7 linked regions of the Homo sapiens genome follow. The protein of the gene in region 2 purifies or fractionates together with the protein of the main gene of each other region. This does not show direct contact. Each region holds a gene or a part of one and is shown on either strand. Other genes may lie near its edges. The genes, in order: IQGAP3, PKN3, GLUD1, NGDN, SLC35E1, TMF1 and TRABD.

Region 1 (3,500 bases), on a different chromosome or scaffold from region 2:
CTCCTGCTCGAGGTCTCTTACCGTTGACATGGTTGATATTGCCCTGGATTTCAGCCTGAGTTAGGTAGTGGTCATAGATGTCCTGGCTTTCTCTGTCATCCTGCAAAAACTCCATTGAAAGGGAACCTGGGAAACCCAATTTAATCTCCTTGTCCTGCTCTTCCCTGCCTGGCTACACTTATTTCTTCTTCTGGGGACCTTCCCAAGGCCAAAGTTCAGTCTGCTCAGAATTCAGGAATTGTGGGGTCTAAAACACTTGGCACTGACATAATTAAGCCAAACCAACCTTTGGAACCTCCAGTCCAATCTCATTCTGTTCTACATTCCAGCACCCCTCTCAGGCTTCCCTGAAGATCATCCCCCAAGAACCTCTTCTCCAGTCTTCTCTTCGGAATTCTCATCATTCTTCCAAGTTCCTTTCCTATTTCTCTAAAATCACTGATAAATTATGGTTTCTCTAAGAAGCAATTTTGGATACTAGAGACATGACAGATAGGAGTCCCGGTTTCACTTGAGACTTTCCAGCCACTCAACTTTTCGGTCCCTGCAACCCAAGACTACTCCTTACATGGTTCCTGGCATTGGCTGCCTTCTCCATCTTGGCCTGGGCCAGCATCTCTTGGTAGACGGCTGCCAGAGGCTCTCGGAGATTCTCCAGAAGAGCACTGGGATTCTGCAAGGCAGCCAGGGTGTCCTCCACCACCCCTCGCTCCACTGCTTCATTGATGGCAAGAACAGCTGCATGGACTGGGAGAGGGCATGGAAACAAGGTCAGGAGGCCAGAGTGAATCCCAGATTGGAGCGCAACCAGTAGCAGCCCACTCTAATGTCATCCTTTTTCCCACCCTCAAGGGCCAGACAAACCAGGTAGCCTGATGGCCCTATCTGTGGATGAGAGCTGGCCAGAACCCATCCAATGGCTGTGAGGCTTGGAGCCCTCCCATACGCATTGAGCCTACTCCTGGCAGGGCAGAGCCTAGTCCTTACCTGCAGCCTCATCCACCGAGAGCTCATTGGCCAAGATGCCCCCGATCTTGCTGAAGGCAGGCAGCTGGAGGCCATATTTGGCCAGTTCGGACGCCATGTTGCTGAGTTCCTCAGCTGCAATGATGCCACAGGTGCCCTTCATCAGGCCCAGAACCCCCAAGACCCTGCCCAGGCTGTGGTGGTCAGGGAAGGAGCTGGGCTTACCTGTGAATTTCACTTTCCCGTATAGATCATGTATCTGAGGGGCCAATCCCAGCCGGAAGAGGAAGAGACTAGGAAAAAACGGAAGGCATTGGAAGGCACTGGGGCCTATTCATTTTGACACTCTGCCCACGATGGGTTTGAAGGGGATACTATGGGGACCTAGAGATGAAGACCACTCAGCACCTGCCCTCAAGTCATCCCCAACCCACATAAAGAAATATGACCATAAATCAGCCCAAGGAAAGTGCTGCAGAAGGTAAATAAGATGGTGTTGGGGGTCTGAGGGGATTAGGAAGGCTTCACAGAGAAGGCCACATTGCAGTAGCAGGTCACTCAATGGAGAGAGAGGACAGGAAGGGCGCAGCAAGCAGATACCTGCTGAGCTAAGGCACAGGGGCACAAAGGGACATGGGAAGTGGTCAGAAAGAGATGGCATGGTAAACACAAGGAACCGGTCGGTCACTTGCTGTGATTTAGCCAACTGGTTGCTGATGGCTGGCTGTAAGTAGGACCAAAGAGCCTACACCATCCATACTAAGTGTCTTGCCTGTGTTGCTCTCAATAGGTCCTGTTCTGATTCCTTTATACCCAGTTACAAACTGAAGGCCCTACCCTGCTACTTTCCTATCTCTGGTACCCTGCCTGCCCTTCCCCTTCACCCACACAGGCCATACATAAATGTGCCCACAGACATGCACAAAAATCTAAACACAACTCTGTAAATCTGAAACCTCACTCTCCTGAGCAGTGCTCCCTGTGGTCTACCCTTCATCCTTCTTTCTTGCTGAGTTTGTTGTTGTTGATTGTTGGTCGCATCCACCTAGAGGAACCTGGATGATAAAATTTGAGGTCTCTCACCTGAGAGCATGGATGCAGTAGACTACCCGGGGCATGTTCTTTTTGTCATAGATGTCCGTGGTCTCTGGGAAGAAGGTCTAGAGGAGAAACCAGCCAGTTACTGCCATTGGGAACCTTTAAGCACCACCAAATGCGGAGAGGGGGTGCCGAGGAATGGGTCTTCCTCTCCAACCTGAGGTGTGTGTTCCCTTGTTACCTGGGGTGTCTAGGTCAGTCTCCCCCAACCATTTCTAGTCAGCCTAGTATAAAAGAAATTCACTGAGGATGCATACTAAGCCAAGGCTCAGCCACAGACACATAGTCCTAGGGTGCCCTGGATTAACCAAACACCAGATAAGGCCATCAAGGCTACAGGATATAAGCCATATCCTCCAAAAACAATAACAGCAACAACAACAAAAAACCAGGCCCCCAGTTGTCTTCCAGATGTCTATAGTGAGCCTGCATGCCTCACCTTAGACCCTTGCCAGAGATGTGGTATGCTGGAGAGCTGGCCTACTCCCATGCAGGGCCCAATGAAGCATATATTGCCAAGGACCACAAAAGTGTCAGGCTGTTATCCCTGTCTCCAAGCCAGCGGCTTCTGATCAATGAGAGCCCTTCTAAGAACCGAGTGGCACCAGGTATGGCTTCTCAATGCCACCTGACAACTGTAATGAGGCCTAACCTCAATATATCTTGGTTATATTTAGATTCACAATAAAAGACCAAATTTAGAGACCTAGAGTGTTCCAGTCCCACTGAAGACACATGACCTCTATTGCTTCTGCCTCCCATCGAAGTGTCTTTACTGCTGTTTCCTGTCTTATAGTGCCTTTCTACAGGGAAGAAAAACAAAGCAGAAAGAAACCATACATTGTAGAATCCTATCATGCCTTCATTTGTATAGCTCTTCACAGTTCACAAAGGGAGTTCACACAGACCATGTGATCTTCCTGACAACACTGTAAGGTAGACAGGGCAGGGCTCACTATCCCCATTTTACAGATGAGTAACAAATTGAGGTTCAAAGAGTGAAATCATGTGTCCAGTTGGGGTTTTGGACCTAGGCTTCTAACTCAAAGTCTGCCACCTAGGGATGTGTATACCCTTGCTTCACACTGTGAAATTTGGTGGAGACAAGGCTGGCCAATACGAGCATGACATAGCAGCCTCCCACCCCCTGCATAATGGGAACCGTGCCACTCAGGCCAGGGAAACTTCACCTCCTTTCATCCACAGGGAAGAGGAGGCAGAGAAAAAAATAACCTGGTTCAAAGACACACAGCTGCAAGGAACTGTTCTCTTAGATTAAGTTAGTTTAGAAGACACATGGAAATAGGGCTAAAGGGTCCAGGGAGATAAAGCATGGGATTGTGGGAGGTGGCTGGTAAGGAGTAAAGATGAATACCAATCTTCAGGCCCAGTATTACCGAAGGCAGACCGATGTGGGCTATTGCAGATAGCCAAAA
Region 2 (4,414 bases):
TCTCACTCTGTCACCCAGGCTGGAGTGCAGTGGCACAATCTCAGCTCACTGCAAGCTCCGCCTCCCAGGTTCATGCCATTCTCCCACCTCAGCCTCCCGAGTAGCTGGGACTACAGGCGCCCGCCACCACACCCAGCTAATTTTTGCAAATTTTTTTTTTTTTTGAGACAGAGTTTTGCTCTTGTTGCCCAGGCTGGATTCCAATGGTGCCATCTTGGCTCACTGCAACCTCCACCTCCCGGGTTCAAGCAATTCTCCTGCTTTAGCCTCCTGAGTAGCTGGGATTATAGGCATGCACCACCAGGCCCGGCTAATTTTGTATTTTTTAGTAGAGACGGGGTTTCTCCATTTTTGTCAGGCTGCTCTCGAACTCCCGACCTCAGGTGATCCACCCACCTCGGCCTCCCAAAGTGCTGAGATTACAGGCATGAGCTGCCGTGCCCAGCCTAATTTTTTTTTTTTGAGACGGGCTCTCTGTTGCCCAGGCTGGAGTGCAGTGGCGCGATCATGGCTCATTGTACCCTCAACCTCCCTGGGCTCAAGCAATCCTCCCACCTCAGCCTCCCAAGTAGCTGGGACTACAGGTACGTACCATCATACCTGGCTAATTTTTTTATTTTTTTATTTTTTTTTGAGACAGAGTCTCGCTGTGGCCCAGGCTGGAGTGCAGTGGTGCGATCTCGGCTCACTGTAGGCTCCGCCCCCCGGGGTTCCCGCCATTCTCCTGCCTCAGCCTCCCGAGTAGCTGGGACTACAGGCGCCCGCCACCACGCCCGGTTAATTTTTTGTATTTTTAGTGGAGACAGGGTTTCACCGTGTTAGCCAGGATGGTCTCGATCTCCTGACCTCGTGATCCGCCCGCCTCGGCCTCCCAAAGTGCTGGGATTACAGGCGTGAGCCACCGCGCCCGGCGATTTTTGTATTTTTTGTAGAGATGGAGCTTTGTCATGTTGCCCAGGCTGGTTTCAAACTCCTGGACTCAAGTGATCCACATGCCTCACCCTCCTAAACTGCTAGGATTATAAACATGAGCCACTGAGCCAGACCAGAAAACTCTTTCTTTTTTTTTTTTTCTTGAAAGAGTTTTGCTGTGTCACCCACGCTGGAGTGCAACAGTGCAATCTTGGCTTACTGCAACCTCTGCCTCCCAGGTTCAAGCAATTCTCTTGCCTCAGCCTCCCCAGTAGATGGGATTACAGGCATGCGCCACCACGCCCGGCTAATTTTTTTTGTTTCTAAAGATGAGGTTTCACTATGTTGCCCAGGCTCGTCTAGAAATCCTGGGCTCAAATGATTCGTCCACCTCAGCCTCCCAAAGTGCTGGAATTACAGGCTTGAGCCACTGTGCCCAGCCAAGAAAACTTTCTTTTTTTCTTTTTTTTTTGAGACTGGGTCTCAAAAAAACTCCTGAGCTCAAGCAATCTTCCCACCTCAGCCTCTCAAAGTGCCAGGATTATAGGTGTGAGCCACTGCACCCAGCAATTTTAGTTTAATTTTATTATTTTTTTTCCAAGGAAATTATTATTATTATTTTTTGAGATGGAGTCTTGCCCTGTTACCTAGGCTGAAGTGCAGCGGCGCAATCTCAGCTCACTGCAACCTCACCTCCTGGGTTCAAGCAATTCTCCTGCCTTAGCCTCCCGAGTGGCTGGGACTACAGGCATGTGCCACCACATCCAGCTACTTTTTTGTATTTTTAGTAGAGACAGGATTTCACCATGTTGGCCAGGCTGGTCTTGAACTCCTGACCTCAGGTGATCCGCCCACCTCAGTCTTCCAAAGTGCTGGGATTACAGGCATGAGCCACCATGCCTGGCCCAAGAAAACCTTTTTTTTTTTTTTTTTTGCGACGGCGTCTTGCCCCGTCGCCCAGGGTGGAGTGCAGTGGCGTGATCTCGGCTCACTGCAACCTCCGCCTCCGGGGTTCAATCAATTCTCTGCCTCAGCTTCCTGAGCAACCAGGATTACAGGCACCCGCCACCACGCCCGGCTAATTTTTGTATTTGTAGTAGAGACAGGGTTTCACCATCTTGGCCAGGCTGGTCTTGGAACTCCTGACCTCATGATCCACCCACCTCAGCCTCCCAAAGTGCTGGAATTACCAGCGTGAGCCACCACGCCCAGCCTAGAAAACTTTCTAACAGTCCAAGCTGCCCAGTGCTGGGTATCAAGCTTTCCAGGGCTGCGAGCTTCCTAACACCAGTGCTTTAAGCATTATTCTGGTTATTTATGTAAATACAAGCTACGCTGTCCGAGTGCTGACTGTGCTAGGCACTGTGCTTAGCACATCACGTGCAACACAGCAACCCTATGAGGTAGGTGCTATATCATCCACATTTTACAGATGGATAAACTGAGGTTTGAAGAAGGAATGTCAGTTTGCCAAGGTCACGCTGCTAGTGGGTGCTGGGGCAGGACTGGAACTCTTGAACTCTTCATCAGAGTTGTTTGTGCTTCCGGCCTCCCCCCAAAAAGAAGGAGAGCTTTGAAGGGGGAGGAACTTCTGACTACCTGTTAGGGCGGTGGGCTTCACAGGTGTCCCTGAAGGCTGGGGGTATCCAGGCACCGCAGCCCGCAACTCTCGGGTCACTCTGCTGCGCAAAGGGTGGGCAGGAGGCAGTTGCTCCAGCAGCTGCTCCAAGGCCAGGCGCAGGAGGTCCAGTTTCTGAGAGGACTCCTGTAGCTGGGCCTGGGCCTGCAGAGGGGACAACGTAGAGCCAGGTTCGTGGGGTATATGGCAGGGGGCAGCAGCCCAGGTCACCCGGAGCCACCTTCCGCATGAAGTCTCAACAGAGAAGTCCTGCTTTTACACGGCCACCCTCCCTTCACACCCCTGCTGAGGGTGGTATGGGAACAAGCCAGCCTTAGGAGAGGGCCAGGGCTGGGGCCTGACCTCAGCCAGTGCCTTGCGGTCCTGTGTTCTCCGGCTACTAAGCAGTTTCACCACGTTCTTGGCGCCCTCAGCCACAGCTGCCTCAACGTGCAGTCGATGCTGTAGCTCCTCCGCCAGCAGCTCAGGCCCTGTGGGAAGGACGGCGGCTCTCAGGCCCTGCTCTTCCCTGCTCCGCCCTCCCTGTGTCTCAAGGCCTCACCTGGCTCCGGGGACCCACTGGCCTCCAGGCTGCTGATCTTCATCCGCAGCAGGGCCACCTTCAGCTGGCTGTCCCGCAGCATCTGCTGGGCAGCTGCCAGGAGCTTCCTCTCCTATGGAGCCATAGCACAGGCCCATCAGACCAGGCCTGGGCCACAGCTTCCCCCATCAGACCAGGAACTGGAGCCGGGTCTCCCCCATCAAAACAGGGTTAAAGTGAAACCTCTAGGCCAAACACTAAAGTCAAGCCTCCCTTGTTGGACTAGTTGGTGGGTCAGGGGAGCCTTTTCCATCTGACCAACAAGGGCTGGGGTCAAATTTCCTCTTTCATATCACGGCTGGGGTCATGCCTCTCCCATCAGATCAGGGCTGGGGCTAACTCTCCCCCATCAGATCAGGGCTGGGGCTAACTCTCCCCCATCAGATCAGGGCTGTGGTCATGCCTCCCCCATCAGAGCAGGGTTGATGCTTCCCCCATCAGATCAGGGCAGGGGCTAAGCTAAGCCTCCCCCATTAGATGAGGGCAGGGGCTAAGCTAAGCCTCTCCCATCAGATCAGGGCTGGGGATAAGCCTCCCCCATCAGATCAGGGCAGGGGCTAAGCTAAGCCTCCCCCATTAGATCAAGGCTAAGGTCCTGCCTCCGTCATCATATCAGGGCCACAGCCAAGTCTTCTTGTCAGACAAGGACTGAGGCCCAGTTCTGGACATCATGCTGGGAGTTGGGACTGGGGCTGGGCTAGGATCCCATTAGACCAGGGCAAGGCCTTCTCTGTCACACTAGAGACTACAGCCATGCCTTCCTCACCCAGCTGGGGTTTGGGGCTGTATTTTCCCCATCAGGCTGCAGGCTGGAATGGTGTCTCCTTATGAGCCCAATGGCTGAGGTGCATTTCCCTGTCAGACCAGGGGCCAGGGTGCTCCTGCCATCAGACTGTGGGGCCTTACCTTGGGGGTGCCACTGGCGCACGTGTGGGTCATGTTCTCAGCCCCCTGCTTCACCTTCAGCTCCACATGCAGCTGCCTCCGGAGAGCCTCTAGGTGCCGAGCCCTGAGCTGCTCTGCCCACGGCCGGGGTCCTGAGGCCACAGGCTCTGTGCACGGGGGTATCGAGCACAGGAGTCCCTCACCCAGAGCCGAGACCCCCACTGTGGCCTTTCCTCCTTCCCCTACTGATCTATAGGCAGGAAATGAGGTGGTCTCGCCACAGTGGCCAGGGCCAAGGCCAGGGGCCAGATGGGCCTAGAGCCTTCTGTCCTGAGGGGGTCTCAGCTCCTCACTCACCAGCTGGGCCAGGCCCAGGGCCGGGCAGCAGGATTCGGGCG
Region 3 (4,414 bases), on a different chromosome or scaffold from region 2:
TTATTTTATGTTAACTGGTATCCAGATGTTTCCAAAGAATATTAGTGAAATGCAGACATCTGCAACTATATACAGTACAAAGCACTGATCTGATTTTTAACTTAATTACCACAGATATTCCTTAGTATGCTCAAGTCTAATGAGCAGTACATGCTAAGTTTCTCTAGGAGAAATAAAAATCAAAAGCAGAAACTAGCTTAAGTTGCTATAGTGATGAAGAAAACAAACCAGCTCATTACTTTAAAAAAGATTCAGTGAAAACCACAATTGACTAAGCTTGAATTTTTTTTCCTTTTCCTAGCTGACTCAAAAGCAAACACAAAAGCCTCCAGCTAGTCACTGTTTTTTATAATTAGTCATTAACAAAACATTTATGAAAATTCAAGTGGTTTTAAAATTACTTGAACCTGGTTCTCTTAATAGGGTTTGATTTATTCATCAGAAATCTAATTTCCAGCTGCACTCTCTCACTTTTCAGGAACTATTTATTCAGTAACCAAGAGTTCTACCAGAAGCACAGAACCACCAGAAAAGCAAAAATGCCTCAGAACAACTCTTAATATTTATAAGTTAACACTCTTGCCACTTACTCATCAGATTATATTTTTTCACTTAATATTAATGTACCTTCTAACCCACAATAATGTAGCGTAACTTAATTTAAAATGAAGAGAGGAAGGTTAGAAGCAGGGAGGAACTCTCAATGACCACCCACAAGTAATGACCACCTGAAATACTACGTCTCAGATAAAAATTCAGACATTCAGCATGGGAAGGAGCACTGCATATAGGAGCTAAGAAAAAGTACACACTTTAGGCTGGGCGTGGTGGCTCACGCGTGTAATCCCAGCACTTTGGGAGGCTGAGGTGGGCAGATCATTTGAGGTAGGAGTTCGAGACCAGCCTGGCCAACATGATGAAACCCTGTCTCTACTAAACACACAACAAAATTAGCTGGGCGTGGTGGTGCACACCTGTAATCCCAGCTACTGGGGAGGCTGAGGCAGGAGAATCGCTTAAACCTGGGAGACCGAGGTTGCAATGAGTGGAGATTGCACCATTGCACTTCAGCCTGGGCGACAGAGAGTGAGACTCCGTCTCCAAAAAAAAAAAAAAAAACCAGAAAAATTATACTTTAATTGCTTTAGCAGCATCAATGTACTGTTTTGTATAAAGTAGGCAAATACCATCTTAGATTTTTAATCCAGTCTAAATCTTTTATTTTAACCTGAATAAATTTTGAAGAGGTAACTAAGCTTTCTGGGAAGCAAATGTTTAGCTGATATTAGAAAAATATAACCTATTGACACATCAAAGAAAAAACGGAAGAATACTTTTTTCATTAAAAATTTAAAATTATAACACATATGTATGTATTTCTATCAAAATTTAAATACAAAAAGAAAGCTGAAGACTCCCTTGACTTCCACTTATGACCCCAGTCTTCTCCTTAGGGGTGACTATTCTTAGCAATGTAAGTGTATATCCTTCCAAATCATGTTCCCTGCAATTATATATGTACATATCCATAAAACATACAGCTTTGTTTTGTGTTATTTAACTTACAGCCTGACAGATGGAAGATTATACATTAAAAGGGGGATTTTGTTAATTTTTCTTGGTAGATTCTTTTATTCTGATCTTGATTAACAGTAACTTAGCTGCACTTTCACACCAAACAGGTCTTGGAATCGGAAATGATGCTAGTTAAAATGGTGAATATAAAGTTGGATTTAGTAAAAGGTAACAATAACTTGTTATTAAAAAGTTTCAAAGGGATAAAGGCTTGAAACCTCAGCTATCCAGTTTCATATAAATTATTTACAAGTCTACGTGATAATTTGAGATGGGTCTTAAGAGAGGCAGAGGAATCCTAGGGAGGGGGAAGTGAGGCATGGACAGGCAGAGGGACTGCACTATTCAAGGGCATGATGGAGAGAAGTACGTGCCTGGATTTCCAATTTCCCTAAGGATAATTTTACACCAGATCTTCTTTATTTTAAAAATCCAATCCTTTTCCTTAATAACCCCATCTGTCCCTGATACCACCATTTTTTTCTACCAGTCTCTCAGGCTAGAAATTTTGTGGTTATCTTTGCCTCTTCTCTCCTTCATCCTGTAAATCCTACCTGTTGGGAATACATTACTGTCCTTTCTTCAAAATGTTTTATCTGTCTTTTCTTTTTCATTCTCTGCTATTAACTATAACTTCATTCTCAGTTCCACTGCTGCCTAGCTTTCTGTGCCCTGCTAGATTCATCATTATTCATCCAACAAACATAAAAGGAAAAAATTGGCCTGGCGCGGTGGCTCACGCCTGTAATCCCAGCACTTTGGGAGGCCGAGGCGGGCGGATCATGAGGTCAGGAGATCAAGACCATCCTGGCTAACATGGTGAAACCCCGTCTCCACTAAAAATACAAAAAAAAAAAAAAATTAGCCAGCGTGGCGGTGGGCGCCTGTAGTCCCAGCTACTCAGGAGGCTGAGGCAGGAGAATGGCATCAACCCAGGAGGCGGAGCTTGCAGTAAGCCAAGATCGCGCCACTGCACTCCAGCCTGGGAGACAGCGAGACTCCGTCTCAAAGAAAAAAAAAAAAAAAAAAAGGAAAAAATTGTTTTTTCTCACACATTTCTGACACCAAATGTGTGGGTTTTCCACACTAAGCAGTTCTCCAGTTCTCTGCAGATACAAACTGGGTGTCCTGCAATTCAGTTATGACACTGACTACCAGGGTTAGCACAGACCCCACAGCTCAAGGGCTCAGTCGCACAAGACTGTTCCCTACTTCAGATGCCAGTTCCAAGTCTTGGGTGCCCAGGGCACCCACACTTCTGTCCAACTTGGCTACCAACCAGGGGGTTCCCATGGCCCCCTCCTCAGGTTCAATAATGTTATAAAGGCTCACAGGACTCAGGGAAACGTTACTTATGTAAAGGATACAAATCAACAGCAACATGAAGAGGTACACAGGGCCATGTCTGGAATGTCCCCACTGCAGGAGCTTCTGTTCCCCTGGAATTTGGAGGGTACCACCCTACCCATACATGGATGCATTCACCAACCTGGAAGCTCTCTGAACTCTCCCCATACTCCAGCCATCAGTTAGGGTTTGTATAGAGGTTCCATTATGAGGGCATGACTGATTGCTGATTAAACTCAATCTTCAGCCCCTTTCCAATCTCCAGAGGTCAAAGGGTGGGACTGAAAGTTCCAAATTTCTAATTATGGCTTGGTCTTTTTGGTGACTAGTCCCCACCTTGAAGCTACCCAGAAGCCCATTAAGAGTGTCCTAGTTAGAACAAAAGATGCTCCTATCACTCAGGAATTTGCGACATTCAGGAGCTCTGTGTTGGGAACCAGGCAAAGAGACCAAATATATTTACTGTCACAAGCCCTTATTTCTCATTATTTACAAATGTAGTTTGTCCTCATGACCCCCTTACACACAGTTCCACTTCCTGCCTTGGGTGAAGCCACCCCCTCTTTATCTGAAATGGCCTTATCCAACTCCTATCCAGCCTTCTCTGTTCCCACATCAAGACTGTCTGTCTGCCAGGCACGGTGGCTCACGCCTGTAATCCCAGCACTTTAGGAGGCCGAGGTGGGCTGATCACATGAGGTCGGGAGTTCGAGACCAGCCTGACCAACATGGCAAAACCCTGTCTCTACTAAATATACAAAAATCAGCTAGGTGAGGTGGTGCATGCCTGTAATCCCAGCTACTTGGTAGGCTGAGGCAGGAAAATTGCTTGAACCTGGTAAGCAGAGGTTGTAGTGAGCCAAGATCGCGCCACTGTATGCCAGCCTGGGCAACAAGAGCAAAACTCTGTTTCAAAAAAAAAACAAACAAAAAAACAAATAAACAAACAAGATTGTCCTTGGTTTCCTTGAACTCCTACTGCAACAACACATGATTTACTTTGTTTTGTTTTTTTTTTTGTCATTTATTGACTGGTTCTAGGAAAGGAAAATGTAGAAATGGAATACTGAGCTTATAGCAAAACAAAAAAGACATAGGGTACAAAGGAGATTTGAATCTGCTCTACTTGGGAGAAATCAATGAAAAAAAATATTCCAAGAAATAAAAAAATTCAACTTTGTTTTTTTAAAAGAACCCTCTGCATAAAGTTCAGAGATCTTGCCTGCAGGAACAAAAAACACATAATAGAAAAATTGATTTACTTAGAATATAGACTATAGTTCATAATAAAAGCAGTCCTTATTTGGTAAACCTTCAATACGAGTACATCACCCTTGGTTATTTCTTTGCTCTTTCTCTCTTGGCATAAAAGAAAAAAAAAATTCATGCAAAATCCTACTAAGGCCCAATATGTACAAAATATCTTTTAAAAGTCCTATGTTGATATATTTGTGATAATGACAAACGATAAAAGAAGTCATACTACTGACAA
Region 4 (3,899 bases), on a different chromosome or scaffold from region 2:
TGTACTGGAACCAAGCGTGGAGGAACATATTTCTTAGACACTCCCTTCACAGATTTCTTCCCTGAAGCCTCAGACTGGTCATCTTCTGCTTCATCTTCCTCCTCATCCTCAGAGCTCAACTACAAAAGAAACAATGTCTGCAAATTTAGGAAGCATTCATGAGATAAGTGAGAAGAAAACCCAAAGCTGGAGTACCCTGGGGTGGTGGGAATATAAAAAGGGAAAAAAGGGAATCTCAAACTCAGCATTCTAACACACAAGTTGGAAAATCAAGTCCTAAGAGAATCCCAGGGTATCCAGGATCACCAAGAGGCTCATCTAGGTATAGCTGCCTCAGAAAAAAATCAGGAGAATACTACAACCCCTTACCTTGCTCATCATATTGCTGGGATGAGGCTTAAAACGAAGTGGGTCATTCTCACCTGAAATAAATAACCCAATGAATTTTACAAAATTTGGAACTTTCTGATGGTCCCCACAACTTCATGATGGTCTCCTCACTTACTAAGGCTGCCTGTCACTGCAGTCTTGATCAGCTTGTCAATTTGATACTTCAGCTTTTGGTCCAAGGGACGAAGCTTTTCCAAAACCTACAACATGGTAGTTAATCAGGATTATATTTCCTTCCCAAAATGAAGCACACACCAGAGTCCCTATATTAAGGTGCCACATAAGGCACCTAAAATATGTACAAAGTAGAGCAAATGAATAGAAAAATACCTTTTCTCATTTGGTTTCCTTAAACATGAGAAGACTCACTTAAATGAGAGCTACTGTGTGATACCCTTGGAGCTCAAAATTTAGAAACCTAAAACTCCAAGAAGCCAAATGCTTCATACCGTGCGAATCTCCACCAGTCTCAAAACTGCATCATGTCCCTGAAGAGATCCTCCTGAGGCTTTGTCCAGAATGAGGTGGGTCAAATCCATAAGGTACATGAGCAGCAGCTGGTCTTTCACTTCCAAGAAGCTGAGACCCTGAGTTGAACAAAACAGAAAGAAAAACAGATTTGGTTTTAGCCAAAGAACCAGATGAAAGCCTAGGGTAAACGGGATGTTTTTCCAAGTTCAAGATTTTCCCAATCAGTTCATATTAGGTATCTGGAATAGTCTCAAGAAGTAGCTATGCCTAAGAAGGCCAATGAGAAAGTTATGCTAATACAAGAGAAACAACGCTCAGAAAATTAATAGAAGACAATGAGAAGAGGAAAATCAATAAACTACCCCCCCAAAAAAGACTATAACAGGGTTTCTCAATCTCAGAGCTATTGACATTTGAAGCCAGAACATTTTTTGTTGAGGGCTGTCCTGGGCATTGTAGGTTTCCAGCAGCATCCTTGGCCTCTTCCCACGGATGGCCCCTCCAAGCTCTAACAATCAAAAATGTCTCCACAGACTGCCAAGTTTTAAATTAATTTAATCAAAGTAATTACCAATTTCCCCCCATACAATGGAATTATATGATACAGGTAAAAACAATGATTTATATATAATGACATCGAATTAAATCCATGTCACCACAAGTTGTAGAAAGTGTAATATGACTTCAATTGTGAAAGTGTGTGTGTGTAGGGGGGGATATGATGAATACATTTTATACACATAGAAAAATGTCTACAAGACAACACACAAGTAACTGCTACCCCTAGGGTGAGATGAGGAAAAGGAAGAAATGGTGTACTTTAGAGTGTGAAAAAGTGTTGCATATATTATTCTTATAATTTTAAAAATCTCAAAAATATTACCACAGTGGTTATCTCAGAGTGGTGATTATACTGATTTTTCATTTTTTTCTTTGGGCTTTTATGTATCTTCCAAACTTCACAGCCCTGAGAAAACCTATTTCAGAGAGGTTAAATACTTGGCCAAGATAACACAGTAATACAAGTAGAGCTAAGATTCAAACTCAATCTGACTCCAACACCTCATCCCTGGATGTCTTTAAGCCAACATGCTAAGCTCTTGAGATCAACACTACTGTGGTATAGAAGGAGAGCAAAGGATTTAGAGTCCACAAACTGAGTTTAAGTTCTGAATTAGGTGTTTGGTAGTCAAATATTGAGTAAGTCACTTAACCTTGTGACCTCAGTCTTTTTTTTTTTTTTTTTTTTGAGATGGAGTCTCACTCTGTCGCCCAGGCTGGAGTGCAGTGGCACTGTCTCGGCTCACTGCAACCTCCACCTCCTGGGTTCAAGTGATTCTTCTGCCTCAGCATCCCAAGTAGCTGGGACTACAGGTGCCTCCCACCACGCCCGGCTAATTTTTTGTATTTAAGCCAAATATTCTATGGGTAAATACAAGTATGAAAATCATTGTTAATAAGAGTCACTGAAGGAGTTTTAAGCACAGGAGTTATAGCAGATTTGTGCTTACAGAAAGATAACTAAAAACAGCATTCAAAATATATTCCCTTCTTGTCTTTATCATTCACTTATGTTCTTACTGTCCATTTTTATTTAAAAAAAATTTAAATCTTTGTTTAAGATTTAAGAGACGGGGTTTCGCCATGTTGGCCAGGCTGGTCTCGAACTCCTGACCTCGTGATCCACCTGCCTCAGCCTCCCAAAGCACTGGGATTACAGCCGTGACCCACTGCACCAGGCCAACCTCAGTCTTATCAGTAAAATATGTACATTTCCTCCCTGCCACAAAGAATAATTATGAGGCCCAAATAAGATAATGTGAAAGAACTTTGTAACCTATAAAGCACCTAGTAAAAGTCTTTGGTCAAAAAGATAAGTTAATATGTATTTGTTCAATAAATAAACAAATATATAGGGATCTAAGAAGGATGCTGGCAACTCATCCATCTCCAAAAGGCACTGAAATGGTTCAAGGCATGGTACCCAAGGCCTGGTGTGGTGGCTCACACCTGTAATCCCAGCACTTTGGGATGCCGAGGTGGGTGGATCACCTGAGGTCAGGAGTTCGAGACCAGCCTGGCTAACATGGTAAAACCTCGTCTTTACTAAAAATACAAAATTAGCCAGGAGTGGTGGCGGGCGCCTGTAATCCCAGCTACTCGGAAGGCTGAGGCAGGAGAATCACTTGAACCCAGGAGGCAGAGGCCGCAGTGAGCCAGGATCGTGCCACTGCACTCCAGCCGGGGCGACAGAGGGAGACTCCATCTCAACGAAACAAAACAAAACAAAAAAGCATGGTACCCAGGACAAAAACAGGTAAGAATTTGAGAAGCAGGCTCTTCCGACGTGCTTGGGCATTGTCAAATTCAAACTGAGCTACAAGCATATGAGAGAAAAACAAAGATTTAAATTTTTTTTAAATAAAAATGGACAATAAGAACATAAGTGAATGATAAAGACAAGAAGGGAATATATTTTGAATGCTGTTTTTAGTTATCTTTCTGTAAGCACAAATCTGCTGTAACTCCTGTGCTTAAAACTCCTTCAGTGACTCTTATTACAATGATTTTCATACTTGTATTTACCCATAGAATATTTGGCCTAAATATCTTAGGACAAAAGCTCAATATATAAAAACAGATAATACCAGAGTTTTCCAGTTAAGTAGGGATGAGAGATCCAGAGTTGTTCTTCCACATTGCCCCCAACCAGTAATCCCTGAGAAGGTTCTACCAGACCTTCATTTGAAAACTACAATATTTTAATTGTTGTTGTTTTGTTTTTTTCAGATGGAGTCTTGCTCTGCTGCCCAGGCTGCAGCACAGTGGCATGATCACGGCTCACTGCAACCTCTGCCTCCTGAGTTCAAACAATTCTCCTGCCTCAGCCTCCCGAGTAACCGGGATTACAGACAGGCACACGCCACCATGCCCGGCTAATTTTTGTATTTTTAGTAAAGATGGGGTTTTGCCATGTTGACCAGGCTGGTCTCGAACTCCTGACCTCAGGTGATCCATCCGCCACAATCTCCCAAAGT
Region 5 (3,953 bases), on a different chromosome or scaffold from region 2:
ATGCCTGGCTAATTTTTGTTTTAGTAGAGATGGGGTTTCACCATGTTGGCCAGGGTGGTCTCAAACTCCAGTGATCCACCCACCTCAGCCTCCCAAAGTGCTGAGATTACAGGCATGAGCCACCACGCCTGGCCCCAAACTGACTCTTGACCAAAGAATCTGATTTGGCAAACCAAATCTTAGTGCAGTGTTCGCTCCTCGTCCCCTTACCCAGAACATGATTCAGATCCTAACATAAACACAAAAACAGGTCAGGGAACCAAAACACTGTGGTCTTGTCTATTATACAAAATATTGAGATAATGTTCACGATTCATTCTGTTTTCAGCAATTGTGACAATTTTGAAGCTTCTCTCGAAGCTTCGAAACACTTCATTTCCTACTAAATACCAAAACGTGTCAGACAGGCATCACCAGTGGGAACTTGGTTTTGTTTTGTTTTTTTTTTTGAGATGGAGTCTCGCTCTGTTACCCAGGCTGGAGTGCACAATCTCGGCTCACCACAACTTCTGCCTCCCAGGTTCAAGCAATTCGCCTGCCTCAGCAGCCTGAGGAGCTGGGACTACAGGCACGCGACACCATGCCCGGCTAATTTCTGTATTTTTAGTAGAGATGGGGTTTCACTATGTTGGCCAGGCTGGTCTCGAACTCCTGACCTCGTGATCCGCCCATCTTGGCCTCCCAAAGTGCTGGGATTACAGGTGTGAGCCACTGTGCCTGGCCGGGGAACTTTGTTTTTAAACGTTTACAAACAAAAAGATTTTCGATGCATAGGCCAGTCCTAATGCATCCCATAATGGGGACCAAGGCAAAAACACACACACACAACTACAAAATATTCCCTAGAAAAATGCAAGATCCTCCGAAAATCAAGATCTCTCTACCAAACAACATACCAAGTCATCACAGAAGAGGTGAAGATGCCTCTCAAAAGACATGTGCCACAGAAATAGAGCTTGAAATACTGAACACGATTTCTCGAAGATCCTTCTCACCACCCCAAGAGAAGCGCCCTGCTCTGGTGAGGGAAGAGGAGGCAAAGGAGAAGAGAGAAGTTTCCCTTCCATCTGGATCTGGGTGGATGCCAACCCTGACGTGCAGGGCAGAGCACCAGGCTGCAGGAACTGGATGCTAATTGCAATCGCTTTTTGCTTTGGAACATTTGCCAGGAACTTGTGAACTGCTAAGGGGATGACCAGGAAACTGGATCCATCTCTGTGGCTGGGGATGTTTTGAATGATTCTCGCGGGCTCCCTGTCTGCTTGGTGACCCTGTTGGTCCTATGCGTATCTGCGCCAGGGAATTAAACTAGCCAGTCTGACGTTCTCAAGCACCGCCCTGGACACCCCCACTGCCAGTTCATGGTCTACAGCCACAGTGACCCCAGCTTTTCACACAGGTCCTGAATGTTATCTGGAATGCAGACACAAGTGCTCTGAGCTACACTGCTTGGGGAATAATTCCACATGGAAAGGTACAACGTGGCCAAGATCTCCGCAGGGACACGGCCCTCAGATGACAGACTCCAGGAAGAAAGAGCATGAGACACTGGTCTCTGTTTAGGTTTGCCCAGAGCTCACGGCCGTCTGCACTGCAGGCAACGCATCCTCCTGCGGCTCACGGGGGGCCAGGAACCCCAGGGCTTCTGATGGAGAGTTATGCACCGTCCCCTCGGCTGGGTTGTACATTCACTGATTGTCAGAAGTTTCTGATACTGCTGTGGGGGCCGGGGAAGGAGTCACCAACAGTCTGGTCCTGTCCTTTGGACTCTACACATCATAGCGGTTCAAACTGTACGAGTTTGGGTAGCTCTGCCGGCTGTATTGGAAGTGGTCTGTTAAGATGTTGTTGCGGCCGTACTGATAGTCCCCGTGCTGGGGGAAGAGGAGGCCGTTGTGGGGCTTCTCCAGTGGGCTCCGGTGACGCTCCTTGCTGCTCAGGTCTGCTGTGGTGACGGGGAGGAGGTGCTTCCTGGCTTGCTGGTTTGCATCGTACTTGGTCTGTGCCAGAAAGAGAGCAATGAGACAGGACATGCCCGGGGCATAAGAGCTCGTAATTCAAAGTCAATCAACTGGCTGGCTGCGGTGGCTCACACCTGTAATCCCAGCACTTTGGGAGGTCGAGGCGGGAGGATCACCTGAGCTCAGGAGTTTGAGACCAGCCTGGGCAACATGGCAAAACCCCGTCTCTACTAAAAATACAAAAAATTAACCGGGTGTGGTGGCGCATGCTGTAGTTCCAGCTACTCAGGCGTTCTGAGGCACAAGAATCACTTGAACCCAGGAGGCGGAGGTTGCAGTGAGCTGGGACCATACCACTGCACTCCAGCCTGGGAGACAGAGCAAGACGCTGTCTCAGAAAAAAAAAAAAAAAAAAAAAAAGTCAGTTAACCTCCGGGGCCGGCATAAGTCATAGGGCTTGAGCAAGGAAAGCAGACTTGAATGGACCAGACCACAGTGCATGGACAGACTCAGAAGACAAGTCCTTGGCCAGGCGCAGTGGCTTATGCCTGTAGTTCAAGTGCTTTGGGAGGCCTAGGCGGGAGGATCACTTGAGGCTAGGAGTTGGAGACCAGACTGGACAAAATAGAGAGACCCCATATCTACATGTGTTAAGAAACAAATGAAGAGGCCAGGTGTGGTGGCTCATGCCTGTAATCCCTACACTTTGGGAGGCCAAGGCAGGTGGATCAACTGAGGTCAGGAGTTGGAGGCTGGCCTGGCCAAGATGGTGAAACCCCATCTCTACTAAAAATACAAAAATTAGCCAGGTGTGGTAGGCGCCTGTAGTCCCAGCTACTCGGGAGGCTGAGGCAGGAGAATCGCTTGACCCCGGGAGGCGGAGGTTGCAGTAAGCTGGGATGGAGCGCCACTGCAATCCAGCCTGGGTGACAGAGCCAGACTCCATCTCGAAAAAAAAAAAAAAAAAAAAGAAAAGGAAAAGAAGGCAAGCCCTCCCTGTTGGCCATCCCATGTCCTTACACCGCACTAAACAGAGCCTTTGAGAGGAGGGAGGGAAAACCCCAGCTGAGACACAGCCGGAATGATTTGAGGACCTGAGGTTGCCTATGCAGGAAAAAGGAAGCCAGAGTGGGATGGGGCTACGCCAAGATCATAAACCAGTCAGTGGCAAAGCTCTGACATACAACCCCAGCCTTGAGCGCCCGGGAGGCCCTTCCTTTTCTGACTTCCTGGGTGTTGGGGGGCCGGCTTCCTTCCCTGCCCAGCCTCTCAGACTCTCACCTTGTTATAGAGGAAGACCCCCAGGATGGCGGTCATCATGCCCAGGACGTTGGTGCTGGTGACTGGGTTGCGCAGCATGATCAGGGACACCGTGATGACCATGATTCTTTTGGTGGCATTGGCGACCGAGTAGCTCAGGGGGCTAACGAGGTTGAGGATGCTGAAGGCGATAACATTCTGGGCAAAGTTACAGAAGCCGCTGACAGCCAGGAGCAGGAGCGTCCAGGGCCACTGGTAGACGTAGGTCTGCAGAGACCGGAAGGTAAAGACAGCACTTCAGTGGGCAGCGGTGACCCTGCCTCCCTGTATCCACCTGGCAGGGTTAGGGGAAGGGATGTGGAGGGGCTCATCTGGAGCCTCATGGTCCACAGGCAGCCAGTCCAGATGTGTCACCAAGAGACACTAGGTGCTTTAGGTCCATGACCTCAGAACCTCATGACACCACACAGCATGGGAATCACCCGCCGTCTCCTGCCAAGGAAACAGGTGAAGCCAGGTCCCCAAAGGGCACCAAGCAAGACGTAAGCCAAAGCCTTCCCTGGCAGTGAACAGCCAGGAACCCTGGGTTTGGCAAAGCAGGGATCTGCTTGTTGGACGCAATGCATTCTACAGGGTTGGAGGTCCTGGGAAGGTGGCTCTGAGCCTGCGAAGTACCTGGTAATACGAAAGCCACGGGTCTGCACCTATTGCTGCGAGGATGAACAGAATCAT
Region 6 (4,414 bases), on a different chromosome or scaffold from region 2:
TCTGAACTTTTAGAAACATTTTCATAGAACTCCCTAATAAGCTTTGTGGAATCTGAGCATATTATAGGATGATGGTACTCAAAATTATTTTTATAAAGTCTCTTTTTAAATGAAATCTTAACCCAGAGCACCAATAAATAAAATGCACAGAAGTGGAGCTTTTTCACTTTTGGTTTGGTTTCTGAGTGAAACTCAGATGGGATCTGGAACACACTGTTGGAAAATCACTGATGTCAAGCTGGTAATAAAAATGATTTCTCAATATGTAGCTGGAGTTAATAAAGTACTGAGTTTTTAATAGTCTATACTAGCATCTTTTTCATTTTCTGTTTTTTTAAATTCTGCCTTGTTTAATAGGTACCAGGTTGAATTGGAAAACCTAAAAGATGAATATGTAAGAACACTTGAAGAGACGAGGAAAGAAAAGGTATTTCTCTTCGTGACCACTCAGCTCTTAGGGCATACATTAGAGAATGGTTGGGGATGGCAGCAAATTAATGAGATAACAAGATGAAATGGGTGATGCCACTGCTTTTGGAACTTGGTCTTTAGTAGGAAAACAAATATGAGTTTATACTTTATGCTTCTAACTTTGAGATTGACTTATCATGGCATGAATTACTATCACAGAAATTGTCTAACTTTATTTCTCTCTATTAGACATTGTTGAATAGTCAGTTAGAAATGGAAAGAATGAAAGTTGAACAAGAAAGGAAGAAAGCCATTTTTACTCAAGAAACAATAAAAGAAAAGGTATTGAATTTTGTTTTTGTTTGTTTGTGGTGTAACCATTTAGTAGATGCTGTGATTAATCATTGCTTTTTAATTTTAGCTATGCTTTATAACAAGCTTGTCCAACCTGTGGCCCTGGTTGGCATGTGGCCCAGGATGATTTTGAATGAAGCCCAACACAAATTTGCAAACTTTCTTAAATCATCATGAGATTTTTTTCATGATTTTTTTTTTTTTTTTTAGTTCATCAGCTATTGTTAGTATATTTTATGTGTGGCCCAAGACAATTCTTGTTCTTCAAATGAGGCCCAGGGAACCAAAAGATTGGACATCCCTGCTTTATAAGTATCATTTTTTTAATGTCTAAAATCAACATAGTGATGAATTCTAGTATTATAATCAGTGTCCTGCTCAGAGTGGACCCAAAGTAATTTTGAGTTTATCCAAAGAGATCTATGATTTCTAGGACTTGAAATATAAAACCTCTTGCCCTTTTTAAAAATGAATTTAATTGTCTGTCACTGAAACCAGTGCACATCATTTGGTCTATAGGCACTTAAGGAGTAAGTCTGGCTTGTTTTCTTTCTGGTTAATGAGGGTAATTTTTCTGAAATGAGTTTTCTGAGGCTGAGCATGGGGACTCACATCTGTAATCCCAGCACTTTGAGAGGCTGAGGTAGGTGGATCACTTGAGGCTAAGAGTTCAAGACCAGCCTGGCCAACATGGCAAAACCCCATCTCTACTAAAAATACAAAAATTAGCCGGGCATGGTGGCATGTGCCTGTAATCCCAGCTACTCGGGAGGCAGAGGTGGGAGAATTGCTTGAACCCGGGAGGCGGAGGCTGCAGTGAGCCGAGATCGCATCACTGCATTCCAGCCTGGGCAACAGATCGAGACTCTTTCTCAAAAAAATAAAAATAAATAAATAAATAAAAATGAGTTTTCTGTATTGAAAGAATTACCGTGTACTTGGAGTTAGCATAATATATTTAAACTACCGATAGGTAAATTTAAATTACCTATTGAATTTATTTGGAATTTTAAGAATACATTAAAAATAAAATGGATAAGCCAGAAATTTTATGATTTGTAACACTCATTAGTAATTTTATGTTACAGAAATAGGTTTAATTGATAGTATATTGTATAATATGAAGCTTAACAGAAACATTCTTATTCTATTATAAAAACCCAACAAATTACATTGTTGTAATAAATGGGTTCTGTGATGATCTAACCAAGTCTAGCTACAGTTTTAATTAGTAAATATTGTACTTTTTTTTTGTTTGTTTGTTTTGGAGACTGAGTTTTACTCTTATTGCCCAGGCTGGAGTGTAGTGGTGCTATCTCAGCTCACCGCCACCTCCACCGCTATCTCGGCTCACCGCAACCTCACCTCCCAGGTTCAAGCGATTCTGCCTCAGCCTCCCGAGTAGCTGGGATTACAGGCATGCGCCACCACGCCCAGCTAATTTTGTATTTTTAGTAGAGACGAGGTTTTTCCATGTTAGTCAAGTTGGTCTTGATCTCCCAACCTCAGGTGATCCACCCTCCTTGGCCTCCCAAAGTGCTGGGATTACAGGCATAAGCCACCATGCCTGGCCAAATATTGTATTTTTGACTTAAGAAGCCATTTTATGGGGAAATTAGAATGAATCTTAAAAAAGTTTTTTTTCTTCTTTTGATTGTATTGAATTCCTTTGTAGTGTGGCTTTTTTAAAAGACTGAATCTTTGTTCTCATTAACCCTAGGAAATGTTCTTGCTTTCTCTGCTTATCTCTTTGCTCTTTAATATGAACAGAATTTTTTTTACTCCCTAAGGAACGCAAGCCATTTTCTGTTTCTAGCACTCCCACCATGTCACGCTCAAGTTCAATAAGTGGTGTTGATATGGCAGGACTACAGACATCTTTTCTGTCTCAGGTGATGTTTTATTTTTTATATGTGCTTAGTTCTTAGAATAATAATAAAGGAAATATGCAAATGGCAATATTGTCTGTCATCATGACCTTGCCATTCTATGGGTAATTCATCTGAATACTTGTGGAGGAGTGCTAATTTTAGTGAGAGGAAACACGTGAATGATTTTCTGCCTTTGAGAAGACATTTAAAGCAAAAATTGACAGAACCATTTTTGTTCGAACCTGGTAATGGAAGACAAGCTATGATAACTGAGTAACTGTGTGAACTTTCTTAATTAACATAGGATGAGTCTCATGATCACTCATTTGGACCAATGCCTATATCAGCAAATGGAAGCAATCTTTATGATGCTGTAAGGATGGGAGCAGGATCAAGCATAATTGAAAACCTACAGTCTCAGCTAAAGCTAAGGGAAGGGGAAATCACTCATTTACAGGTATTGGAAAAATTAAATTTGCTATAGAAGTAAATGAAGTTTTGAGGCCTAATAAATAGCACCCTTCATTTCCATCTGAATTCTGAGCAAATTGAGAAACAAGATGACATAGTGGCATGTGAAGCCCAAAATGTATCACATATATCAATGATAAAGGCTAAAAAGAGAAATTAGCTAAGGATAACAGCCAACTGAACCTGCTAATTGCCAGAATTAGGCATATTCGGCTGATCTGTCACAGGAAATGCTGGGCTGGAGCAGGCCTCCCATGTTTTACAACCTGCCTACATAAGACATAAGCATCTAGGAGCAGAGAATCCCTCCTCCTTTCAAGCAGCTCTTTCCCAACAGAATAAAGGGAAGTCACTGAGCTGTGAATGCCTGTTCTATTCAGATTTACCTCTTAGATAAGTTGTTCCAGCTACCCCGGGAAGGAGGGGTAAAGGGGATGAGATGTTTGAACTGTAACACCCTGTACATGGGAGGAAACAACATGAGTTGTTGATGGAGCATCCTTCCATCTTACCTTTTTGGCTTTTAAAAAACTTTATGCAGTCAGAAATATTGAAATGTTTTACAGGTTTGAGCATCCCAGCTCTGAAATCTGAAATGCCCCCAAATCCAAAACTTTGAGTGCTGACATGCTGCTCAAAGGAAAAGCTCAATTGAGCATTTTGGATTTCCAGATTTGGGATGCTCAACCAGTAAGTACATAATGCAATTATTCCATAATCTGAAAAAAAAAAAAAAAAAAAAAGAAATTTGAAACATTCCTGGTCTCAAGCATTTTGAATCAGGATACCTCTTTTCAGTGTTAAACACAATACACTCAGAAGTAGGTAAAAATTCAACTCCCATTATATACTTTTAGTTATATGAAAATATTAAAGAACTTGAATTGGCAAAAAGTAGATCAGACTAATCTGAATCCCAGATGTTTGTATAGCTGGTATGCTATACAGGGACCTAATTAATTTCTTTGGTAGTGATGAAAGCCTCTGTCGATACAACCTACACAGGTGGGGCTACGTTAAAGTATATTTTTATTTCTCTGGGTTCTTGTAGTAATTTAGAATAACTGAAATATATGTCATTTCCTTAGATTAGAAAAATATATGGTTGAATGTTTTCAAACAAATAATTGGATTTATCTCTGTTGCACAGTAAACCTTATAAACGGTATACCTCTCAGGAAAGTTGGGACCGTTTTTCTGCCACTGTTTCCTTTACTTAAGAAAGAGCTAGCTCAAGGTTATATGTTGACATGTCTATTTCAAAAAAAAAAAAAAAACCACACACACATTAAATATTTTTATATTAC
Region 7 (5,097 bases), on a different chromosome or scaffold from region 2:
CCTCCGCGTGCGTTGGGCAGGTAACTGGATGAGGGATAATGTGGTGAGGTCCCCGTGCCCAACCCTCCTCTGCAGCCCACAGCAACCGTTCCCTCTTCAGCAGCCCCCTCCCCCCGGCCGCTCTGGGCGCCCGTTCCCAGCATCCTCCTTGGCAGGTGTTACCCCTCCCCATTCCCCAGGCCCTGGGCCCTCCTGATCTGTCTCCTCGACCCCCTGGGGCCCCAGTCTGGCTCAGTCTGGTCCACACTCTGGAATCTGGTGGGACTGGGTATGGAGGGTCTTGAGTGTCAGCAGGCCACCTGCGTCCCACCTGGTGGGTGAGAAGGGTCCCACAGGTCAGCATGGAGGGACCCGACTCTGTCTCTTCTGCTGGAAACCAGGCAGGTTCCTTCCCCCAGGGCCCCGGCAGGGCCACGAGTACCCGCTGCACTGGAGCACGGGGGAAGAGGCAGGGATCCTTCATTACCTGAACCCCATGTTCACACGTCACAAAACAGGAGTTTCCAAAATTAGAATTTATTTCAGTTTCTAAGGAATGAATCCCCGAGTGTGGCAGGAAGGACACAGCCGGCTCCTGACGCACACCTGATTTGATTCAACACCGAGTCGGCACAGACACAACCAGAGATGGCCTGGGTCCAGGCTGGGGCTGCACGGGCTGTGTCCTGGACAGCCAGGAGGGAGGCCCCGCACACAGACGGCCGCCGGGCAGGGGGCCTGAGCGGGACAGGCCTGGCCACAGCCCATGTCCTTGGCCTTCCACATAGGTGCACACATTGTCTGCCCAGAGAGGGCCAAGATGCCCCAGGCACCCCTTCGCTCCGGGGGCTCAGGACACAGGCTCCCAGCTGAGGCCACGCCTGGACCCAGAGCTGATGTTTGGCTGCACGCGAGCCCACTCGGGACAGACCCAAGAACACGAATTCTCTCCCTTTGGATTTAAGGCTGGTGTTTTTTGACATTTACTTCAGTTTTTCTCTCTGAAATTAAAATTACCTGAGTAAAAGATTTTAAGACATTAAAAAAGCCAAAAACACAGAATCCCTGCAGGCAGACGGTGCCAGGGAGGTGGCGGCCAGGGCCAGGATGCCAGGGGCACGGTGGGGTCGGCTGGAGCTCCAGGGCTGGGCCTTTCCCAGTCTCGCCTGCCCTGGAGCCCCCAGGAGCCGCCCCTGGGCCGACGCTCCTGTGGCCGGAGCACAGGAAGGCACAGTGAGGTAGGGACAGTGGCCATTGTCCCCCGCCTGCCACCAGGGCTGAGAGGGCAGCGCACGCCTCGGCCCCTCCTATAAGCCCCTGCCCCCTCGGAGCTGGGTGTCTTGTCCAGAAGCTGGGGAACGGCCCCTGCAGTGTGGGAGGGGAGGGGCTGCCGGGAGGCCTGAGCTCAGACAGTTAAATAATCCTTTATTTGGGTGGGCTGGGGGAGGGGTGACTGGCCCAGGAGGGCAGGCGAGGCCGGGCCCAGACCCCCATGGGGGGTGGCAGGGGCCTCGGGCGGGCTAGGATGCACCTGGCACCCAGAAGTGCCGCGGGGGCACTGGCTCCTCAGGGGCCCGAGCGGGCGGGGAGCAGTCTCCTACTTGTGCCGGGCCTCGGTCACCCTCTGCAGGCAGTACTGCGCGGCGGGCAGCGACAGGACCAGGCTCGCGGTGCGGCGGCCCATCCAGTACAGGCTGTAGCCCAGCAGGCCGAAGAAGGCGGCCTTCACGGCCAACCGAGACACTCTGCCGGAGACGGACGGCGGGGGCACGCTGTGGGAGGGAGGGGGCGCTGGGCCTGGCTGGGGGTGGGCTCCCCATACCCCAGCCCCCATGCCTGGGTCACTGCCGCATGTGGTTGGCCTCCAGGGCGCTCAGCCTCCACCTGGGGGCTTGTGGGGTGGGGCTTGCAGGGAGGGGCGGGCACTCACGTCATGATCTCCTGGATGTTGAGGTCGGTGCTCCAGTTCTTCTCGATGCCAGGCACGTGGCCCATGCCCACGACGCCCACGACCACGGAGGGGACGCACTTCCTGGGCTCGGCTGTGGGGAAGGACAAGGGGTCAGTACCTGCTCGGGCCTCAGCCTCACAGGGGGTCCCACGCCTGCGGGCGGCCGTCACCGTCAGAGGCCCGAGGCAGCTCGAGGCGCCGCGCGGCCTGGCGCAGCATGTAGGTTAGGTAGACGTCGCGCTCCGAGACGATGGTGCGGTGCAGGTCTGGGAACTCGCCAATCATCTCGGCCATCATCTGCTCCAGTAGGTCCTTCTGCTTGCAGCGTTCCACGTCATCCTTGCTGTGGAGAGGGATGGCTGCAGCCCCGCAGGGATGGGCAACGGGCTGGGGGGGTGGGGCTGGCACTGTGGACACCGGGCAGGGACCACAGCACGTTTGTTTGGGATTTGTGGCGGAAGGAAAGGGCAGGGAAGGCCTTGAGTGAGGATTGGCTGCGCTTGGACCTGCACAGGAGGGCCTGGAGCCTCCCACAGACCACCCTGCAGGCCGGCCAGGGTCCCGGGGGCAGCCCTACCTGATGGGGTCTGACAGGAAGCACAGGCCCCAAGCCAGCCTGACCTTCTGCCAGAAGGAGAGCGCTGCGATGGCCCTCTTGAAGGTGACGGGGATGGGTCGGTCACCCAGGTGGAACTTGCAGAAAGGCACCTTGCTGGCCTGGAGCAGAGGCTGGGTGTTGGGGAGCAGTGGGAACCCCGGACCACCCCTGTGAGCCACATCCCTGTGGCCACCCCCTACCTCACCCTGTGCCCACCTCCTTGAAGGCCTCCCTGAACTCGCCACCTGGGGCCATGCCCAGCTGCTCGGTGATGTGTGCAGACACCTTCAGCAGCAGCATCTGCATCAGCCCCGACATGAGCCCGTTCTGCAGAGAGAGGGAGCAGGCATCAGCTGGAGGGGCGGGTGCGGGGGTGCGCTGGGGGAATGGCAGAACTGGGATGGCAGGCAGCACCAGCGCAGAGCCCTGCCCCAGCCCAGTGCTGTGTCCTTGGCCCCCTCCCCGACAGGTGCAGGACCACCCTAGCGTGCAGAGGGTCAGACCAGAGCAGGGAGTTCTGTCCCAACAGGCACTTCTCAAAGGTAGCTCCCTTCAGAAAAGACCTTCACGGGCCGGGTGCAGTGGCGCACGCCTGTCATCCCAGCACTTTGGGAGGCTGAGGCAGGCGGATCACGAGGTCAGGAGTTCTCTCTCAGACCAGCCTGGCCAACATGGCGAAACCCCATCTCTACTAAAAATATAAAAATTAGCCGGGTGTGCTGGCGGGTGCCTGTAATCCCAGCTACTCGGGAGGCTGAGGCAGGAGAATCACTTGAACCCCGGAGGCAGAGGTTGCAGTGAGCCGAGATCACCAGCCTGGGTGACAGAGTGAGACTGCTCTGTCTCAAAAAAAAAAAAAGAAGAAGAAAAGGCCTTTATGAGGCAGTCTCGTTCTGCGAAGGGGCCGCCTTGAGCTGGCACAGACGCTGGGTGCTGGGCAGGCAGGCTGGAGAAAGGGCCTCACCACTCACACCTGCCTGCTGAGGTCAGCACAGCACTGCTGGTGCGGACACCAGGCCACCCCCATCTTCAGCAGCTACAGCCCGAGGCCTATTGCCCCTGTCTCACCGGCCGGCTGGCACCACGGGGGTGTCCACGTGTGAAGGAGATGATGCCCACAGAAGGGCAGCAAAGCCCCGGGGGCCACACAGCGCCGGGCAATCGCTCACACCTGCACGCGCCCAGGGACGGTCTGGGCCTGAGCCATGAGCCCTGGGAATGTCCCGCCTGATGGAGTGCCCGTGTTTCCCCGGGGCCCAGGCCACCCTGGGGAGCCCAGGCTAACTTAGGATGAGACATTCACGAGGCCTTGGTCCACTGGGACCCACTCCACCTCTGGAGGGGCTGGGGTCTGAGCTCAGACGTGCCTGTGACCAACCCCAGTAGAAACCTAGACACCAGGGCACAGCGAGTGTCCCCCGGGAGGGGACAGGTGAAGCGGACACCTGGTGTCTCCCAGACCCTGCCCCACGCCCCCTTCCCTCTGTGACACCGCAGCAGTGAGCAGCACGGCACTGCCGAATTCTATGCCCCTTCGAGATCACTGGGCCCCAGGCTCTGGTGGGGAGGCTGCCCAGTGCTGGGCCCTGGCTGGACCGGGGACTGCCCTTTAGAAGACGGCCCACAGAGGTCTTCTTTGGTGACTTGCCTCATCTGGAGAAATTAAAAAATGAAAGGCAGGCGCCAAACGTTTAGGGACATTTCTATAAGATCTCATTATAATTGTTTCCTTTGAACAGGGGGAAGGCAAACTGACCAGGGCTGGGGTCAGGCGTGCTGGGCCCCCTTTGAAAACACAAAGCCTGGCCGGGCGCGGTGGCTCATGCCTGTATTCCCAGCACTTTGGGAGGCTGAGGTGGGTGGATTGCCTGAGCTCAGGAGTTTGAGATGAACCTGGGCAACATGGTGAAACCCCGTCTCTACTAAAAATACAAAAAATTAGCCAGGTGTGGTGGCAGGCACCTGTAATCCCAGCTACTCAGGAGGCTGAGGCGGGAGCATCACTAGAACCCAGGAGGCGAAGGTTGCAGTGAGCCAAGATCGCACCACTGCACTCCAGCCTGGGCAACAGAGCGAGACTCTGTCTCAAAAAAAAAAAACAAAAACCGAAAACACAAAGAGCAATGAGAAAGTCCTGCCTCTCCGGTCACTGCAAGGCTGGAGAAGTGGGGACAGGAGGAGCCCTGAGCCCCACCCACTTTGGGCCTGGGTGTGGTACCGGGGGGGCCAACCTTGCACTGAGACCTGACCCATCCCCAGCAACTGCTCAGCAACCCAGTCCTCGGGTGACCAGCCCCTGCCTCAGCTTGGAGAGCCACCCATTTCCTCCTCCCTTGCCTGAAACCGGGTAATGGAGCCTCTTTCATTTCTCCTGGCCCAGGGGAGGTCCCTAACCCGGCAATCCCCAGGGCAGGCCAGGCACAGCCACACTGACTGGGGGCATGGGCTGTGAGAGGAACCTGGGCAACAGGCAAACAGGTGGCTTTGACCCCGACCCTGACCCTGACCCTTGCCCGCGGCTGCGCACCTGCCTCACGGCCTGCTGCAGCTTCTCCAGGCTGAGCTCCTG

What was found.
Region 1: the proteins of PKN3 (region 2) and IQGAP3 purify together in Homo sapiens (affinity purification with mass spectrometry; one large-scale study listed by BioGRID and IntAct). This does not show direct contact.
Region 3: the proteins of PKN3 (region 2) and GLUD1 purify together in Homo sapiens (affinity purification with mass spectrometry; one large-scale study listed by BioGRID and IntAct). This does not show direct contact.
Region 4: the proteins of PKN3 (region 2) and NGDN purify together in Homo sapiens (affinity purification with mass spectrometry; one large-scale study listed by BioGRID and IntAct). This does not show direct contact.
Region 5: the proteins of PKN3 (region 2) and SLC35E1 purify together in Homo sapiens (affinity purification with mass spectrometry; one large-scale study listed by BioGRID and IntAct). This does not show direct contact.
Region 6: the proteins of PKN3 (region 2) and TMF1 purify together in Homo sapiens (affinity purification with mass spectrometry; one large-scale study listed by BioGRID and IntAct). This does not show direct contact.
Region 7: the proteins of PKN3 (region 2) and TRABD purify together in Homo sapiens (affinity purification with mass spectrometry; one large-scale study listed by BioGRID and IntAct). This does not show direct contact.

Annotation. Positions count from the first base shown.
Region 1 is NC_000001.11:156,562,566-156,566,065, forward strand, and holds part of IQGAP3 (ras GTPase-activating-like protein IQGAP3), read right to left. Parts: coding exon 3,462-3,500; intron 2,868-3,461; exon of another isoform or gene 2,771-2,867; intron 2,127-2,770; coding exon 2,050-2,126; intron 1,260-2,049; coding exon 1,192-1,259; intron 1,102-1,191; coding exon 988-1,101; intron 748-987; coding exon 569-747; intron 101-568; coding exon 22-100; intron 1-21.
Region 2 is NC_000009.12:128,705,503-128,709,916, reverse strand, and holds part of PKN3 (serine/threonine-protein kinase N3), read right to left. Parts: coding exon 4,374-4,414; intron 4,184-4,373; coding exon 4,038-4,183; intron 3,205-4,037; coding exon 3,093-3,204; intron 3,022-3,092; coding exon 2,894-3,021; intron 2,696-2,893; coding exon 2,512-2,695; intron 1-2,511.
Region 3 is NC_000010.11:87,084,247-87,088,660, forward strand, and holds part of GLUD1 (glutamate dehydrogenase 1, mitochondrial isoform a precursor), read right to left. Parts: intron 1-4,414. UniProt on the Homo sapiens protein: Mitochondrial glutamate dehydrogenase that catalyzes the conversion of L-glutamate into alpha-ketoglutarate. Plays a key role in glutamine anaplerosis by producing alpha-ketoglutarate, an important intermediate in the tricarboxylic acid cycle.
Region 4 is NC_000014.9:23,472,249-23,476,147, reverse strand, and holds part of NGDN (neuroguidin), read right to left. Parts: intron 978-3,899; coding exon 840-977; intron 591-839; coding exon 506-590; intron 423-505; coding exon 370-422; intron 120-369; coding exon 1-119. UniProt on the Homo sapiens protein: Part of the small subunit (SSU) processome, first precursor of the small eukaryotic ribosomal subunit.
Region 5 is NC_000019.10:16,551,910-16,555,862, forward strand, and holds part of SLC35E1 (solute carrier family 35 member E1), read right to left. Parts: intron 3,489-3,953; coding exon 3,243-3,488; intron 2,001-3,242; coding exon 1,770-2,000; 3' UTR 1-1,769. UniProt on the Homo sapiens protein: Putative transporter.
Region 6 is NC_000003.12:69,024,239-69,028,652, reverse strand, and holds part of TMF1 (TATA element modulatory factor), read left to right. Parts: intron 1-357; coding exon 358-427; intron 428-660; coding exon 661-753; intron 754-2,555; coding exon 2,556-2,657; intron 2,658-2,940; coding exon 2,941-3,093; intron 3,094-4,414. UniProt on the Homo sapiens protein: Potential coactivator of the androgen receptor. Mediates STAT3 degradation. May play critical roles in two RAB6-dependent retrograde transport processes: one from endosomes to the Golgi and the other from the Golgi to the ER.
Region 7 is NC_000022.11:50,194,999-50,200,095, reverse strand, and holds the end of TRABD (traB domain-containing protein), read right to left. Parts: coding exon 5,056-5,097; intron 2,856-5,055; coding exon 2,745-2,855; intron 2,660-2,744; coding exon of another isoform or gene 2,648-2,659; coding exon 2,508-2,647; intron 2,274-2,507; coding exon 2,101-2,273; intron 2,022-2,100; coding exon 1,910-2,021; intron 1,752-1,909; coding exon 1,577-1,751; 3' UTR 981-1,576; coding exon of another isoform or gene 968-980; 3' UTR 501-967; downstream 1-500.